2 separate regions of the Homo sapiens genome follow, and region 1 is linked to region 2. A link means that fine-mapping ties the variant in region 2 to the expression of a gene that starts in the linked region. Tissue or cell type: transverse colon. Region 2 holds a variant in brackets; the other region holds the start of a gene. All regions are shown on one strand. Distances are between the middles of the regions.

What was found. PIP is the estimated chance that this variant, and not a neighbour inherited with it, causes the effect.
Region 1: it holds the start of SCCPDH, and the variant in region 2 is fine-mapped to the expression of SCCPDH in transverse colon (GTEx, PIP 0.99).

The regions. Positions count from the first base shown.
Region 1 is chr1:246,722,616-246,725,528 of GRCh38, reverse strand. SCCPDH (saccharopine dehydrogenase (putative)) reads right to left here and starts at 1,120. Exons shown (of 12, transcript NM_016002.3): 1 at 917-1,120. The coding sequence starts at 1,106. RefSeq lists silencers at 767-976, 1,077-1,146, 1,187-1,316 and an enhancer at 1,527-1,686.
Region 2 is chr1:246,754,241-246,757,153 of GRCh38, reverse strand. All of the region lies in intron 5 of SCCPDH (saccharopine dehydrogenase (putative)), which reads right to left. It also overlaps the pseudogene RPL35AP6. Among named protein-coding and RNA genes, the nearest start is that of SCCPDH, 31 kb to the right of the region's middle. The variant A/G (reference allele first, on the strand shown) is at 1,689.

The sequences.
Region 1 (2,913 bases), 32 kb after region 2:
CCAGAACTCTAATGGGTGTCTGTATAAGGGAAATCTACGGGAGTTAATAGCCAAATTTAAAGGCTACGGAGTCGTAAGTCAGATGTCTCCCCAGCCATGAAGGCAGCAGGATCCGTGTGTCTGTCTCCTCTCTGTCCCATCCTGCACCCCAGACTCGGGACAGGTCTTAGCATGGACAACGTCACTCAATAAATATATGCTCCTTCAATGCTTAGAGAATCAATAAATATATGCTACCTGAATGCTTAGATTATCAATAAATATATGCTACCTGAATGCTTAGATTATCAATAAATACATGCTACCTGAATGCTTAGAGAATACGTAAGCGTCTAAACCAGAAATACACACTTTTTATTCTCTGAAGAGGAAGACTGCTGGAGTATTCTTACACACAAAACAAGAAACTAAAACAGAATAGCCACAAAGACACTGTCAGTACAACTCGTAAGCTTGCTCTCCCGTCCTCAAAACACGAGGCAAAGGGAGACTCCGATCTCCAAGAGACCAAAGCCCTCCTCTCCTCTCCGACCAAACATCTAGAAACCCGCAGATTCAACAGGTGCCCCCGCTGCGGGGCAGGATGAAGCAGAGAGAGGGACAACTCAAGTTCTTGACCATTTCGCCAGGGGAGCTCCCCAAACTGAGGCAGAAATGCAAAAAGCGGGAAAGAGGAGAAGGAAAGAAAAAAAAATGTGTGTGTATATTATACACGCACGCGCACACACACATATAGTTAAGGAGGTGGGACAAAGCTATGGCAGTATTTGAAACATCTCTCCCTCTCCTCTTCTTGTCCTCACGCAGGGCTCGGGGACACGTAGGGCGCATCCCTGCGGGAGAAACGCTCGTTTGGGGCGATGCGGGGTCCCCGGCCCAGCCGCCCGCGCAGCCCCGTCCCGCCCCGCCGCTGTACCCAGCTTCAGGGCCGCCTTCTCCAGCACCCGCTGCAGCTTCTCCCGGGAGCGGCCCGCCACGGCCCAGGGCAGGCGGGAGCTCCGCTCCGGGTCCACCTGCTCCCGGGCCACCTCCTCGGTCACGAACTGGCCGGTGAAGCCAGACGCGCCGAACACCACCAGGTGGAAAGGCCTCTGCTCGGTCGCCATGACGAGTCCACAGCGAGCCCAGGCCCCGGGGCGGGTGGAGTCCACGGCGCCTGCGCCTCAGGCAGCGACCCCAGTACCCGGCGCAGCAACGGCCGCCGTCGCCGCAGCCAGCGCGCCGGGCTCCCTTCACCCCGCGCGCGCCGCCGCGCCAGGGCCGCGCCCACGCCCACGCCGCCTCGCGCGGGAGCCGCGGGTGAGCGGCTTGCTTGGGAGGCTTCCGACGGGAGGTTTCCTAGGGCGGTGGCCCTGGGGGCGAGTCCGCTTCCAAGCCTGGCAGGCGCGGACGGCGGCCCCTAATTCCGTGCGGCGGTTTGTTCTGCAGGGCTCTGGCCGCCCCGGGCAGCGCATCTTCTAGCCCTGCTGGAAGCTGGAGGCGGCAGCCGGTTGTCCTTGTTGCACGTGGGGGTGGAGCAAAGAGTGCGAGAAAATCTGCGGATGGCCTCGGGGATGGCCCACCCCGAGAACCCTTGAGCTTGCTTGCTTTCTTCCTTTCTTTCTTCCCTTTTTTCCCTTTCTTTTCTCTTTTCTGTTTTTGAGATGGAGTCTCACTCTGTCGCCCAGGCTGCAGCGCAGTGGCGCGATCTCGATTTACTGCAACCTTCGCCTCCTGGGTTCAAGCGATTCTGCCTCAGCCTCCCGAGTAGCTGGGATTACAGGGGAGCGCCCCCACGCCCTGCTAATTTTTGTGTTTTTAGTAGAGATGGGTTTTCACCTTGTTGGCCAGGCTGGTCTCGAACTCCTGACCTCAGGTGATCCACCCACCTCGGCCTCCCAAAGGGTCGGGATTACACGCATGAGCCACTGCACCCAGCCCATTCCTGATTTTTAAAAACTCTCATTAAAATAGGAATAAATGAATGCTTTTAAAAATTTTGAAATATATGTCTTGCAAAAAAGGTACAGCCAATAACAAATATGTACCCTCAACACAGCTTAAGAAAAATATTCCAGATAGCGAGGCTTCCAGGTATTCATTCCTGAACACATTTCCTTTTGCGTCCCCAAGACGGCCACTTGCCTGAATTTAGTGTTTATTATTCCTATTCCTATCTTTCTGCTTGTTATATATGTATGTATTTATAAATATTATAGTACCGTTTTGCATATTTTGAATATTTTGTAAATGTCAATCCTGCAGCTTTCTTATTTGGTCATGATGTCGTGAACTTATTCCCAAATGATTCAGAATAAAAAAAAATGTCTGTGATACGTGTGTGGAGAGAGGGAGAGAGAGAGAAATACACCAAATTCTACAATGCTTTTGTACAATGTTGTATAGTGCTTTTGTGCAATATAATACAAAGAATGCTACAATAAAATTCTTGTACCTTTCTCCTAAAGCACCTGTGCGAAAGTGTATTGAATATGTGTCAGGAATGAAAATGGTTGGTGCTAGAATATCCATATTTGAGTTATCTCACTGCTCTTTAAAGCACATGCACTAATTTTCGCTCTCAGCGGGATACAAGAATCCTCTTGCTTTACGTGCTTGTCAGCACTTGGTATTCTCAGACTTCATGCTTGTCCATCTGGTGGGTGTAAAGTAGTAAGCATTCAAGTATTTATTAAACACTTAACTATATACTGGGCACTAGGAATAAAGTACTGGGGATATGGCAACAAATAAAGCCCCTGCCCTCAAGAAGTTTACATTCTAGTGGAGTAAACAGTCACTAAAAAATAATCTTACAGAGCCAGGTACAGTGGCATGCACTTTTAGTCCCAGCTACTTGGGAGGCTGAGGCAGGAGGATTGCTTGAACCTAGGAGTTGGAGGTTATAGTGAGCTACACTCCAGCCTGGGTGAC
Region 2 (2,913 bases):
CAGGCTGGTCTCGAACTTCTGACCTCAGGCAAGCCGCCCGCCTTGGCCTCCCAAAGTGCTGGGATTGCAGGCATGAGCCACCGCGCCCGGCCTAGCACTGACCTTTCTTTCCCAACCTCTAGGTGGGCCTTTTAATTCTCTATTACAGGAATAAACTTCATTTATTATATTGATTGTACATAATTGTATTATGTCCTTCCTTCTATGTTGTTTACATTGTTTAGGTCAACAGAGTAATTCAGAAAGATTCAAAACTAATTCTGTCACAAGATTTTCAAAGAGGGATATGTGGGAGGCAGATATGAAGGTACCTTTCATTGTTAATAAACAAAATAAGAGAAACAATAAAACCATCCAAAGATTCAGGTTTTCCTATCTCAGCTTTGATGATACTGAAAAGCAGAGATACCAAATCTAACTTTCATTCTGGTACAGATTTATTTCTTCTGTTTTATTAAAACTACAACAGAACTAAAGTCTTAAAGGTTTGATTTGTTATCTACTCAATCTGAGCCTAGCCAAAAGGGCCTATGTGAATCTCTACAAATGTAAAGATTCCAAACACCAGGAGAAAACAGCTTTTTAAAAATCTAAACATATTTTCTTATACAACTAAGCCATTGAAAAGGAAAAAATTACATTCAATTTAAAAAACTATTTGCGTTTCACAGAAAAATATAGAGACGTACCTAATACAATTTTATTAAATTGTATATTCATGTATGTTATGAAGCCAACGTACATGTAAACATCCAGGTCAAGAACTACAGGTAACCAGCAACTAAGAAGGCCCTCCTTCCGTCCTGCCTTTACAGTAATCAAGAAAAATTCTTTTCTTTAGAGTTTAATCACCTAAGAATTCATCCCTAAACAGTACAATTAGTTTTGCCTGTTTCTAAGCTCTACAGAAATGCAATCAAGCAAGATTTATTACTGAGTGTTTGGCTTCTTATGCTCAAAATTGTGATGTCAGGATTTACCACGTGTTGTAAGTAACTCCTACATTGCAGCTAGCCTTTTGACTTTCTTAATCGTGTGTTTTGGGAAACATTCTCAATTTTAAAAGTACACAAACGTATCACTTTTTCATTACATTTAATGCCTCTTTGTCTTTTTGTAAAAGCCATTCCCAACCGTGAGGGCATCCACAATCCATCTAAACTTGATTTTGGTACGGGGTGCAAAAGTATGAATCCAATTCCATTTTTTCTCCAAGTAGATACTCAATTGTCCCAGCAGCATCTACCGAAAAGCCCCCTTGCTGTTCCTGCCAACTTGAAGCCCGGAGGCCTGCTGGGAGGAGGAATTCTAAATGACAAGTATGCCTGGAAAGCTGTGGTCCAAGGCCGTTTTTGCCGTCAGCAGGATCTCCAGAACCAAAGGGAGGACACAGCTCTTCTTAAAACTGAAGGTATTTATGGCTGACATAAAATGAGATTTGATTTGGGCAGGAAATGCGCTTATGTGTACAAAGAATAATACTGACTCCTGGCAGCAAACCAAACAAAACCAGAGTAAGGTGGAGAAAGGTAACGTGTGCCCACGGAAACAGTGGCACAATGTGTGCCTAATTCCAAAGCAGCCGTCCTGCTTAGGCCACTAGTCACGGCGGCTCTGTGATGCTGTACTCCTCAAGGATTTGAACTAATGAAAAGTAAATAAATACCAGTAAAAGTGGATTTGTAAAA[A/G]GAAAAGAAAAATGATAGGAAAAGCCCCTTTACCATATGTCAAGGGTTTATGCTGACTTAATAACAGGTCTTGATCTCCAAGAGTGTCTTTCTGCCTTATTCTCTTTCAAGAATATCTTGCCTGTTCTCAGCCCTTTGAGTTTCCACATACATTTTAGAAACAGCTTGTCCAGATGCACATCGAAACAAAACAAACAAAAAAACCTGTTTGTGATTTTGATGGGAATTGCATGAGATTATAAACAAATTTGAAGAAAATTAACTACAAAATGGATTCATATTTTAATCCATGAATACGCTGGATCCTTCAATTTATGTCTTCTTTATGGTCCCTCAATAAAGGTTTACAGTTTTCTTCAAAGAAATCTTGTACACTTTCTATTACTTACTCTTAGGTACTTGATTTATTTAATGCTATCATAAATGGTGTTTTTTACAAAAATAATCACCTTCTAACTGTAGCTGGCATACAGAAATACAGCTGATTTTTATATTAATTTCATATCCAGGAACAATAAAAACTATTGTGGAAATAAATGAAACAGAATAGAAAAAATCAACAAAACTAAAAGTTGGTTCTTTGAAGAGGTCAACAAAACTGACACATTTTGGCTAGACAGACCAAAAAAAAGAGAAAGAAAACCCAAACTACTAAAATCAGGAATAAAAGAGGGAACATTATTACCAACCTTATAGAAATAAAAAGGAGTATAAAGGAATACTATGAAAAGTGTATGCCAACAAATTAGATAACCTAGGTGAAACGGACACATGTCTGCTCAGTGGATCACGACCCTCTCACACGGACCCCCTTAGAGTTGTAAGCCCTTAAAAGGGACAGGAATTGCTCACTCGCGGAGCTCGACTGCTGGAGACGTGAGTCTTGCCGAAGCTCCCAGCCGAATAAAGCCCTTCCTTCTTTAACTTGGTGTCTGAGGGGTTTTGTCTGCAGCTTATCCTGCTACAGCCTAGTTGAAAAAATTTATGTTCAAGTGCTATTTCTTTTGCGGCACTGAAAATTTACTTCTAACAAATTTGGGGGCCCGCCCGGGATTCCCATTCTCCTTTGGTGAAGGGTCTGGTCCTCTCCCATGAGGAGGCATGCCCCGCTGCCTTGTTGCAGTGGCCTCAGGGGTAAGGAATCAAGACCCACCGGGTGTGACAAATAAACCCGGACTCTCAGCAATGCAGAAAGAAACTGGCTGGCGACCTGGGGAAAGGGATC